Linked DNA regions of Homo sapiens. The protein of the gene in region 1 purifies or fractionates together with the protein of each later gene. This does not show direct contact. Each region holds a gene or a part of one and is shown in the gene's direction. Other genes may lie near its edges.

Region 1 (7,764 bases):
CTTAATTATTGCATTATATTGCCTCCAAGACAAGATAGTAAGGGAATTCCAGGCAAACAGGACAGTATATGCAAAGGCACAGAGGAAGGAAAGAGCACAACATCTTTGGGGAATTGTGAATGGTTGACATTGGATGAGGCATAAATAAAAAGACTAGCAGGGGATGAGGCAGGCAGGCGCCAGGTCATGGAAGGCCTTGGGTGTCATGTAAAAAACTGTGATCTTTATTGATGGGTAATGAGAAATTATTGAAGGATTAGGCAGGAAAGTGACCTGAGTAGATTTTCTTTTCTATTTGAGACATATTTCTCTGGTGTAAGAGTGGAAGGGAGGTGAATGCGGGATGTCAAAGGCAGGGAGACAAGTCAACAGACCATAGCACTGCTCTAGATGAGAAGTATGATTCTGAACTTAAAGTGGAAGACAATCAAGTGAGTATGGGCAAGAAGGATTTTTAGGAAGTAAAACTAAAAATTGGGGCCAGGCGTAGTGGCTCATGCCTGTAATCCCAGCACTTCAGGAGGCCAAGGAGGGCAGATAGCTTGAGCCCAGAAGTTCAAGACCAGACTGGACAACATGATGAAATCCTGTCTCTACAAAAAAAAAAAAAAAAAAAAAAAATTAGCCAGGTGTGGTGGCATGTGCCTATAGTCCCAGCTATGATGTGATCATAGTCCCATGATCACATCACTGCATTCCAGCCTGGGTGACAGAGCGAGACCCTAAAAAAAAAAAAAAAACAAAGAAAAAAGAAAATTGGATATGAGAAAAAAGAGTTAAGGATGGTTCCTAGATTTCTAGTCCCAGTTACTTGGTATACGGATATACATTAATACAGGAGAACAAGGAAGAGGTTTGGAAGAAAAGCTAATGCATTTAAGGGGAATGTTATTAAATATGCCTTTTGTTTTATTCTTTTTTTTTTTTTAAATGGTGTCTCACTTTGTCACCCAGGTTGCAGTGCAGTGGTACCATCCTGGCTCACTGCAACCTCCAGCTCCCAGGTTCAAGCAATCCTCCCAGCTCAGCCTCCCAAGTAGCTGTGACTACAGGCGCTCCCCACCATACCCAGCTAACTTTTGTATTTTTTGTAGAGATGGGGTTTTGCCAAGCTGCCCAGGCTGATCTCGGACTCCTGGGCTCAGGTGATCCATCTGCCTTGGCCTCCCAATGTGCTAGGATTACAGGCATGAGCCACTGAGTCCAGCCTGTTGTTTTATTCTTATTCCATAATTTTCACATCATTTATTTTCATCATCACACATAGTGATTTTCAACTAGGGCACGAGCAGGAACCCAGAGGGGAGAGCGGTAGGAGGAGGTATATTAGAATATGGGTGTTTGGGCCAGGTGCCGTGGCTCACGCCTGTAATCCCAGCACTTTGGGAGGCCGAGGTGGGCAGATCATGAGGTCAGGAGTTCGAGACCAGCCTGGCCAACATAGTGAAACCCCATCTCTACTAAAAATACAAAAAATTAGCCAGGCGTGGTGGCGGGCACCTGTAATCCCCACCACTCGGGAGGCTGAGGCAGGAGACTCGCATGAACCAGGGAGGCAGAGGTTGCAGGGAGGCAGAGGTTGCAGTGAGCCAAGATCCCACCATTGCCCTCCAGCCGGGGCGACAGTGCAAAACTCCGTCTCAAAAAAAAAGAAAAGAAAAGAAAAGAAAAGAATATGGGTGTTTGTAGGTGTAGGTGAGTGTATATGTAGTTCAACTATTCCTTCCCACCTTTTTCCTGGAGAGAGTCTGACATGATCCCTCATTGAGAATCATTGCTATGTACAATTATCCATGAATATTCTGACAAGGTAGAGACAGTTGAAAACCTTGAATGTGTTCTATGCAGTCACAGAACTGCAAGACTAGGACAGACTTTAAAGATCATCTAGAGTTTGGTAGGGCTCAATCAAGTGCTGTCTGGAAAAATGAGAAGGCATTTTCAGTTATCAGAATGGGAGGTGCCATTGGCATTAAGTGCCTGAGAGCCAGGGATGCTAAGTATCCTGTAAACCACCAGCAGCTCCAAATAATGAAGAATTATCTTGCCCCATACAACAATAGCACCCCTTGAAGAAACACTGATATAGTTCAATCTCCACGTTTTATAGATGAGGAAACTGAGGTCTTAGAGAAGGGACTGACTTGCTACTAAAGATCACCCAGTTACCAGTAAGGCCTGTTTATACTCTCCTTCACTGCTTTCCAATATGGGTCTCCTAAGCCTGTGGGACATCCAGAAAAGGAGTCCAATTGAGTATATGTCAAGTACTCAGAATGCTGCCTTGCTCTTACAATCCTTTGCACATTTTCTCTAGCCCCAGATCCTCCTCCCACCTTCTGAAACCTAGGCTGGAGGTGCAGGTTTGGCAGTTTTAGCACAGAAAGCCTAAAGAATGGATAATGTCATCCTGGCCAAATACATAAAATGTGACAGAACTCTGAGGAGAACAAACATTAGGAACCTAGTGGAGGAAGAAGAATTGGTAAAAGAAAATGAAAAAGTCAGAAATTTAAGAGGCAAGGTTCAGGATGACAAAGGGGACTAAGTACAAGTTGTTTTGTTTTGTTTTAGTAAAATAATTACTTTAGCATTTATTGGGTAACTATGTTGATTGATACATTGTATCTACTCTTTGCATCTTGCTTGCAGACATCAGACTGACTTCAATGTAGCAAGAGCTCATTAAAACAGCCTCTTTCCAGCTGGGCACAGTGGCTCATGCCTGTAATCTCAGCACTTTGGGAGACAAGAGGCGGGTGGATCATTTTGAGGTCAGGAGTTCAAGACCAGCCTGGCCAACATGGTGAAACCCCATCTCTACTAAAAACAAAAAATAGCCAGGCATCTGTAATCCCAGCTACTTGGGAGGCTGAGGCAGGAGGATCATATGAAGCCGGGAGGTGGAGGTTGCAGTGAGTCAAGATCGTGCCACTGTACTGCAGTCTGGGTGACAGAGTGAGACCCTGTCTGAAAAACAAAAACAACAACAACGACAACAAAAAAACAGCCTCTTTCCCAGTCTCAGCTGAAGCTGTAAAGCTGTTTGATACAGTTCTGGGCAGTGTGACAGATGTGAGAGAACAGCATCAAAGCCCACCCCTTAATAAGTTTGTACAGGGTAGGTATATAGAATCATATTTGGTACTTTAACATTCCTAACAGACTACATTTTGCAAAAGAATAACAACGAAGGGGACTTGTCCTACGAGCTAGCACACATGGTGTAAACCGGAGTAATTACAAGGGTGTAGCAGGGGTGTGCAGAAATTTATAAATGTAAGTCTGTACAGCTATGGGCGAAACAAAGGAGGAGTGGTCAGGTACACTTTGAGGAGGAGGCATAACAAGAAATAATTCATAGGTCTTTCCACAACAGAACCTCTAGCACCACCTTGCTATCAGTCCTTTGCACATTTCCTCTAGCCCCAGATCCCCTCTCACCTTCAGAGATTCAATCGTGGCCTGCTTGTAAACCTTTCCTCCAGAATCTTTCTTCTGAGGGCTATTCTGGATTCTAGGCGTTCGAATGACGAATTTATCCATTGTTAGGGGACTCCGACTACCTTGACGTGCTTGCAGCGTGTTCTGGTCAAGAAAGAGGGCAGATTCTAAAACCCCACTAAAGACTGCCATGATATTTTTTCCCCAAAGTAACACAATTGAGTTCTCTGGAAGAATTCATGAATTATGGGGCCTCGAGTGGAATTGACAGGAAGTAAGATTTTCTCTTTAAAAGAAAGATCTTCCGAAGAATTGAAACTGTAATCAATCATCAGTCTACGTCCTGAGTTAGGAGGTTCCTAGCTTCCAGAAGTGCACGCTCTAGCGAGGATTCCAACATTGGGGGAATTGGCCCAATATTGGAATCCCCGCTAGAGCGTGCACCTAAGCCCTCTTCCAAATAAGATTGGGCTGTGAAAGGGTTAGGATTACATTAGGCTCAGTGACGCCCTCTTAACAACCACCTCACCACAGCCATAATCCCAAGGGTTGCCCTGGTAATCAGCAACCGACAACCACCTCCAGAACTCAGCAGAGGGTCTCACAATACGCAGCATCCCCTAGAACAAACTGCTCGGTGGTCAGAGGACCCTACCCACGGCTGTAATCTCTGGATCCCCGAACAAGGAGAAACCCCATCCTCCTCGTTCCCAGCACTCAGGAGCCCGGGTAGGGGCACCCAACAACGGTCTGACGTGAGACCCACCAGGAAAAGCAGCCCTGGTAGCTGCTGTTGGCGCCCTCCAGACTGCAACCTCGTAGGCTCCCAAGCCCAGTCGTCTGTGTTGAAACTAAACAGACGCTTCCTCCCAGGGCGGTAGTTCCTCTGAAGAAACTCCGCCGGCCCTCGCGCCTCTGGGCCACAGCGAACCACATTCCCCAGAATGCACTGCGAAGAAATGCGGGCGGAAGGCGCGCTGAGGGCGGCTGTAGTTTTCCGAGACCAACTTTCCCGACAGCACCGTGCGCCTCCCGCCTACGGAGAACTACATGCCCCAGCCTGCCCCGCGAAGGGAAGAAGTCAGGAGGCCCCGCTTCGCGCTAACGCTTGCGATGGTTGAATTCCCCTCCTCACGCCAGCCTAGGAGAAGAAGTTCGTAGTCCCAGAGGTGAGGCAGGAGGCGGCAGTTTCTGGCGGGTGAGGGCGGAGCTGAAGTGACAGCGGAGGCGGAAGCAACGGTCGGTGGGGCGGAGAAGGGGGCTGGCCCCAGGAGGAGGAGGAAACCCTTCCGAGAAAACAGCAACAAGCTGAGCTGCTGTGACAGAGGGGAACAAGATGGCGGCGCCGAAGGGGAGCCTCTGGGTGAGGACCCAACTGGGGCTCCCGCCGCTGCTGCTGCTGACCATGGCCTTGGCCGGAGGTTCGGGGACCGCTTCGGCTGAAGCATTTGACTCGGTCTTGGGTGATACGGCGTCTTGCCACCGGGCCTGTCAGTTGACCTACCCCTTGCACACCTACCCTAAGGTAGGGCCCGTCCGGAGCGGGCTGCGACCCTTCCCTTGCAGCCCATTTCTCGGCTCCCCACACGTATGTCGGCTCTGGCAACCTGGCTGTTAAATCGGCCCTTCAATCGCTGTCTCCCATCTGTGTAGCTCCTGTTTTCCTCCCTAATCCTGCCTGCACCCCATTTCTGCTGTCATTACCGGAAGTTTGTCCTGCACTACCCTGTGATAGGCTGGGGGACACAAAGATGAGAAAGACGCGATCCCTTTCCTCTGGGAGCTTGCCGGGCTGCAGGGGAGTCGAGCACTCGGAGGAGGATAGGGGAGGATATGGATGATTAATGCGGGGTCCTCACCTAAGGGAGCGTAAGGGGGGATTGTAGAAAGGGAGGCGCAGATACGCGAGTCCACAAATGATTGATTGATAACCCTTGTTTACTAAGCGCCTCTCGGGGCCAGGAGCGCAGTCTTCGGGGAGTCAGACAAGTAGACGATTCCACTGTGGTATAAAAAGCGTCACGAAGGCAGCTCAGGGAGTAGCGAGACGCTCAGGAATGCTGTCTGCCTATGTTGAGTTACTGTGTCCAAGACGCTGCCAAGAGGGACTGGGTTAGAGAAGAGGCAATTAGGTGTCTGCCTACCAGAAACTGACCACTCAGTGCAGAAAACGGGGAATTCGTGGAGTGGGTGAAGAAATGAGACTGTGGACAGGAGGGGGTTCGCAGCTTACAGAGAGGAATGGCCCTCCTCTCTATGCTTCCCCCCTTTCTTTTAATTACATACCTAACCCTCTTCACGTTGGTTTTTCAGCCTAAGAACTCTGTTTACTCAACATTCTAAATTGCTTGATGATTCCCACCACACCTTTCCCATGTATGATTTGAGTATATGCCCTCCCCCACGTTGTTTTATGAGAGCTTTTGTTGATGTTGCTGGTGGTTTCCTCTTCGTTTTTCCTTCATCTCCTCTATGCTATTTGCTTAACCATTGTGGCTGGACCTCCTTGCTCTCTAAAACTGGAGTGGCTACGGAGACAGTTCCAGTGAAGCTTAGGATGTTCCATATTGGCGAGTATTTTCAGGTCTTTGAAATGAAAAGTTCTAAGTGCCGGCACTTCTCAGATTTTGTTACGGCTGGATTTTAAACTGCATGGAGATTATCAATTTTCAAAAAAAAGTGTGGGAGAAGGGACTGTACTAAATTTTTCCAGAGATTTATGTAACAATCGAGAAAGAAGTGAGAAGTTTTAACTTCAGACTTAAATCAATGAATACTGCTTCTAACCACGTTATTTTTCTCCACCTCTTGTAAACTTCTCATCATTAAGAGGATTGTATGAAGAAGCTCATTAATATTGATTTGGCCTGGAATTGGGTTGAGACTTACTTTCTATTGTTCTAGGGTTTGTTTCCTTTTTTGGGATTTTCTCGGCAATTTTGTGGTATAAACCAGAATGTTGGGAAAATAATCAAATAATTTGAAAGGATACCTTCCTGGAAGTTGTAGGTACTTTAATAATGTCCACTATTTTCTAACAATTGGTGTTATATCTATAAACTATTTTTACTTATTTATTAAAGCTTTTCTCACAAAGAACTCCAAATCATCTGGCTCCCTATAGGTCCTGGACTTGAAATTTATATAGACTCCACTGTTAGCCAGAGTGATGGGAGATTTATCATACCATTATCCCTAATTCTCACAACAACCCTGTAAAGTAGGGTTTTAAAATTAAGGAAATTGAGGCTCTGAAAGGTTAAGTGACTTGCCTAAGGTCACATACCCAAGAAATAGTGGAGCAGGAATTCAGCTTAAAACTGGCTACACTATGCTGCCTCCTATTAATAAACTTGCATTAAACATATTCGGCCGGGTGCGATGGCTCACGCTTGTAATCCCAGCACTTTGGGAGGCCGAGGTGGGTGGATCACCTCAGCTCAGGAGATTGAGACCAGCCTGGACAACATGGCAAGACCCCGTCTCTGGAAAAAAGAAAAACAAAAAAACTAGCCAGGCATGGAGACGAGCACCTGTAGTCCCAGCTACTCGGTGGGAGGCTTGCTTGAGCCTGGGAGGCGCAGGTCGCAGTGAGCCGAAATGTCGCCAGTGCACGCCAGTCTGAGAATGAGACCGTGTCTCAAAAAAATAAAAATAAAAAAATGCCGGGCGCGGTGGCTCACTCCTGTAATCCCAGCACTTTGGGAAGCTGAGGCGGGTGGATCACCTCAGGTCAGGAGTTCAAGACCAGCCTGGCCAACATGGTGAAACCCTGTCTCTACTAAAAATACAAAAAAATTTAGCCAGTCGTGGTGGCGGGCGCCTGTAATCCCAGCTACTCAGGAGGCTGAGGCAGGAGAAGCGCCTGAACCCGGGAGACAGAGGTTGCAGTGAGCCCGCGCCACCGCACTCCAGCCTGGGCGACAAGAGGGAAACTCTGCATCAAAAAAAAAAAAAAGAAACATATTTAATTATGTCACTGATTTCTATTGGCTCTCCTCTGTGCTTTGTGCTCCAGGAAAAAGCACTGTGTATTGTAAGAAATTAGATGAATTTTCAAACTCACATAGCGTTTGAAAAACGAGATAGAAATCTCGTTTTAGGCTGGGCGCGGTGGCTCACGCCTGTAATTCCAGCAGTTTGGGAGGCCGAGGCGAGTGGATCCTGGGTGGTCAGGAGTTCAAGATCAGCCTGACCAACATGGTGAAACCCCATCTCTACTAAAAATACAAAAATTAGCCGAACATGGCGCACGCTTGTGATCCCAGCTACTCAGGAGGCTGAGTCAGGAGAACCGCTGGAACCCGGGCGGTGGAGGTT
Region 2 (5,156 bases), on another chromosome or scaffold:
TTACATTTTAGCAGAATTCAGGCCCCTCTCAATCCTAATCTTGTGACCTTTCATTAGCCTCAGCCCCCTGAACAAGGAAGGGATCAGTTTTATGGAGGGACTGTTACCATCTTTGCTTCGAAGTTAAACTGTAAACTAAATTTCTCCCGTGGTTAGCTTGGCCTATGCCCAGGAATGAGTGGAGACAGCTAGCCTGTGAGGGTAGACGCAAGATGGAGTCAGCCATGCTAGATTTCTTACTGTCCATAATCTTTGCAAAGGTGGTTTCAGCAGTAGTAAATACAAGCAACCAGATAAAGGTCTACTAGGCAGATCTTTACAGACACACAATAGCTTGTGAATTCCTGTTGATCTCATCTGGGCTCTCTAATATGTAATAGTTTTACAGCATTCTCAGCATGACAAATATTTTTCTACTTTACCGTTTGTTAGAATCCAGTGAACTTAAAAATCCTCTCCTTTCAAAAAGCAAATACTAGATTAAAATAGTTGCAAAGCTTTCTTTTAGGGATTGGAGAAGTGTAGCTACCTTTTGGCATGGTACAGACTTGGAATCTGTTTGCCTTGGCTGGTATTCCAGTCTGCCCTTCTTTAAATGTGTACCTCCTCAGGTATAAAATGGGAATGAGTAATAGTACCTAAGGATAAATTCCCAGTTGAATTAACCTGATAAGAAAATCTTCAGCTCTTTATAGAACATTGCCATCCCACTTTTTTGGGCTATCTTTTAATGTCACCTTGGTTTAAATGTTCATTCTTGTATAGGTCATCCATGTCAATAGTGTTAGAACCTTGGATATCCCCAGCAAACCATCTCATTACTCATTCTTTATTCTTCCATTGCCCACAGCCTGAAATCTTTTGATATTTCACTAAAATATCATTTGTATTTCCCTTTTTGCTACAAACAATAGAGATCTTAAATATACACTTCAGGTTTGACATATGCATACATCCGTGGAGCCTTCATCAGGATCAAGACCTACATGGTACATTTCTGTACCCCAGGAAGTTCCTTCCTATCCTTCTCTAAGCCCACCACCTCCATCACTTTCAGATTTCTAGAACCTAAATTCATTTTGCCTGTTCTTGAAGTTAATATAAATGAAAATTTGGGTCTGGCCTTCATTCACAATGTAATGTTGTAATGTTTCATCCACAATAGTTTCCCTTTCTATTGCCGAGGGGATATACCATTGTATGCAGATGCCACAGTTTGATCATCTGTTCTGTTGATATTGGGCTGTTGCCAGTTCTTGGCTATTGGGATAAAGCTGTCCTGAGTCTGCTTTCATTTTCTCTGTCTGAGATGCTCTGTGGTTCCTGTCTCCTGCTTCCTAGCCCTGCAACCTTGGGCAAGTGTCTTAATCTCTCTGCTTTGGTTTCCTTATCTGTAAAATGGTAGGTTGGAAAATAACTCAGGGTTGGGACTAACATTAAAAAAAAGAGAGAGAGATAGGGTCAGACATGCCTATAATCCCAGCACTTTGGGAGGCTGAGGTGGGAGGATCACCTTAGGTTGGGAGTTTGAGCCCAGCCTGAGCAACGTAACCAGTCCCTGTTTCTACATTTTAAAATCTCAAAGTTTTTCAAATGAAATAGAAGAGAACTTGAGAGTGAATGACATGGAACTGCACACAATGCGTCACACATGTAAATAGAGTTTTGTGTATGTATGTGTATACTAAACACAGTATAAAAATGTATTTGTTATAATTTAGGCAAATCGGTTTGCCAAGCACTGTATGTGCCATTGTAAGCAAGGAAGTTGAACTCTCCTGAGGTTATTTAGTAATAGGTATTTCTAGCTTCAGCATGTCTCAAACAGTCACTTACATAGTGCTTGCTGTGAGCCACGCGCTATTTTAAAAGCTTTCCATATAACATCATATACTCACAACCATCCTTTGAAGTGGGCTTGATTCCCATTTTATATATGGAGAAGTTGAGACAGGGACTATCCCACTTGCCCATGATCACAAAGCTAGAAAGGAAGGGCCAAGATTTGAACCTAGGCAGTGCAAGTGTAGAGTCTTTGCTGTAAACCACTATTCCTGGGGAGACAGGTAAAATAAATTGTATGTGCAAATGCAAATTGATAAGTAATTGATACAATACTCCACCCCTTTATTCCAGATATGAGAAATGAGTGTTGGACGTCGAAGAATAAAGTTGTTGGGTATCCTGATGATGGCAAATGTCTTCATTTATTTTATTATGGAAGTCTCCAAAAGCAGTAGCCAAGAAAAAAATGGAAAAGGGGAAGTAATAATACCCAAAGAGAAGTTCTGGAAGATATCTACCCCTCCCGAGGCATACTGGAACCGAGAGCAAGAGAAGCTGAACCGGCAGTACAACCCCATCCTGAGCATGCTGACCAACCAGACGGGGGAGGCGGGCAGGCTCTCCAATATAAGCCATCTGAACTACTGCGAACCTGACCTGAGGGTCACGTCGGTGGTTACGGGTTTTAACAACTTGCCGGACAGATTTAAAGACTTTCTGCTGTATTTGAGATGCCGCAATTATTCACTGCTTATAGATCAGCCGGATAAGTGTGCAAAGAAACCTTTCTTGTTGCTGGCGATTAAGTCCCTCACTCCACATTTTGCCAGAAGGCAAGCAATCCGGGAATCCTGGGGCCAAGAAAGCAACGCAGGGAACCAAACGGTGGTGCGAGTCTTCCTGCTGGGCCAGACACCCCCAGAGGACAACCACCCCGACCTTTCAGATATGCTGAAATTTGAGAGTGAGAAGCACCAAGACATTCTTATGTGGAACTACAGAGACACTTTCTTCAACTTGTCTCTGAAGGAAGTGCTGTTTCTCAGGTGGGTAAGTACTTCCTGCCCAGACACTGAGTTTGTTTTCAAGGGCGATGACGATGTTTTTGTGAACACCCATCACATCCTGAATTACTTGAATAGTTTATCCAAGACCAAAGCCAAAGATCTCTTCATAGGTGATGTGATCCACAATGCTGGACCTCATCGGGATAAGAAGCTGAAGTACTACATCCCAGAAGTTGTTTACTCTGGCCTCTACCCACCCTATGCAGGGGGAGGGGGGTTCCTCTACTCCGGCCACCTGGCCCTGAGGCTGTACCATATCACTGACCAGGTCCATCTCTACCCCATTGATGACGTTTATACTGGAATGTGCCTTCAGAAACTCGGCCTCGTTCCAGAGAAACACAAAGGCTTCAGGACATTTGATATCGAGGAGAAAAACAAAAATAACATCTGCTCCTATGTAGATCTGATGTTAGTACATAGTAGAAAACCTCAAGAGATGATTGATATTTGGTCTCAGTTGCAGAGTGCTCATTTAAAATGCTAAAATAGATACAAACTCAATTTTGCATAGAAAGGTGTATTTTGAATAGTTCCCATGTTGTGTTCTCACATTAGAGTAATTTCTATATTAAACCATGAAAATTGCCTTTATGAGTGATACCCATTTGAGGGCCTCTAAACCCTTCAATTTGGTACTCACGTGAAGAGGGAAAGCGGAAGATGGTAATTTTTTTTTATGGATGATATGGCAGGATGATTGGTTCTGATCTTACCGGCTAGTGGTCATTTTTAAAAAACTTGTACCCTCTTATCTGAAATCCTGTTTCTGGAATTTGGCCATTTTAAGTGATTTTGTTTGCCCTCTTCTATAATATTCCTACTTCCCATAATAATGACTGATTTATTTGTAATTCAGGTATTTATAAACCTATTGGCTACAAAGACTTTGTTAAACATTATCCAGTGGTTTTCGTGAAATGGAATTATGTTTATTTTTATGGGATTTGGGTAAATTTTAAATTGTCTAGAAAACTGAAATTTCAGTTGTCAGTTGTGGAATTCAGTTTTTCAATTGTGGAAATTTCCTGCCACCCCAACAGTATTTTTGTGTGTTAATTAATTTTGCAAAATGAGAATCATGGTGTGACACTCATCTAATTTATCTTGTTGTGATGTTATGGTCATAATAAGGAGAAAGAGGGTTTAATTTTTCTTGTATTTGGTTTCCTGGTGGTATCATAGTGTAATTTTAGTATTTGAAAATCAGTGTGATTCCTTAATGGCCAACTGAAGATTGAATTGCCGCTAACAACCATATCGTGTTAGTGAATTTTCAATATGGACCAGGAAGGCATATGTATTTTGAACTTGAGTGAAAAGGTTGAAGTTACAGACTTTTGCATAGATGGTTTGTCAATTTAAAATTCCAGAATTTATTATTGCCATATTTTCACATGCTGCTTATACAAGATTATTATTGAGTAGTAACTGCTTCCCTGTCTATGTAGAAGTGCCTGTGTTTTTATTTATTGTTCAGATCAAAGACCAAAACATTTTCTTAAATATATTTTATGTAATATTTTATTTGTATACAGTGTTGTTGATGAAATATTTAACTAGAGCATGATATTTTAAATGTTAAGGTGTAACATATGTTAAATAAAACTGTTATTTTTGAATTTTAAAATTTGTTTTTTGGGGGTATGAACTACTAGAGTTTAAAATTCTGCCAAACTATTACTTATATGTACTATTGTGTAACATACTTTCTTGAAATATTTTTGTTTATAGAATTGAAGGTTCTTATCAGATGGGATACTGGGGACTATAAACAATGGAAATAAAGCCACTGTATTTTTAATTTTTTGTGTAATGTGTAATCTATAATCCTTTTGTTTCCCATATTTGAGAACATTTTTCCCTGAAAGAGGCCAGTTTCCTCCCCAGAAACCATTACAGTAGTGTTGAACTATCACTGTCTCTCAGTGCGTCATCCATCTTTGCATTTAAAATCCCCAAAGTGCTTTCCCATTTAAAGTCTTTAAAGAAAAGTGAGAATATTTATTTATGCTTCCATTTTCAGTGAGTATAAATAATTTAATTAGGGAGTGGTGTGGCATTGTAAAGATTGTGTTATCCTAAGCCATTTCTATTTTGGAGTTTGTAGCCACAAAGATGAAATATAGAATCAGCCTTGACTACTCAATTTCCTTTCATAGACCCATGTTGAGAAGACACTACTAACGTCCAGTGGGAAACAAGTAGACAATTGATGAAGCTCAAAAAACAGAAGGGTTAGTGTTGTAAGAGCAAACAGTCTAATCCTGTTTGGAATGTGGAAGCCATTTCTGAGCAAGTATG

What was found.
Region 2: the proteins of TMEM59 (region 1) and B3GNT2 purify together in Homo sapiens (affinity purification with mass spectrometry; 2 studies listed by BioGRID and IntAct, with this or other methods). This does not show direct contact.

Annotation. Positions count from the first base shown.
Region 1 is NC_000001.11:54,050,205-54,057,968, reverse strand, and holds the start of TMEM59 (transmembrane protein 59 isoform 2 precursor), read left to right. Parts: upstream 1-4,764; 5' UTR 4,765-4,780; coding exon 4,781-4,969; intron 4,970-7,764. Other genes in the region: TCEANC2 (transcription elongation factor A N-terminal and central domain-containing protein 2), read right to left, coding at 3,445-3,546.
Region 2 is NC_000002.12:62,220,076-62,225,231, forward strand, and holds the end of B3GNT2 (N-acetyllactosaminide beta-1,3-N-acetylglucosaminyltransferase 2), read left to right. Parts: intron 1-2,136; 5' UTR 2,137-2,145; coding exon 2,146-3,339; 3' UTR 3,340-4,656; downstream 4,657-5,156. UniProt on the Homo sapiens protein: Beta-1,3-N-acetylglucosaminyltransferase involved in the synthesis of poly-N-acetyllactosamine. Catalyzes the initiation and elongation of poly-N-acetyllactosamine chains. Shows a marked preference for Gal(beta1-4)Glc(NAc)-based acceptors.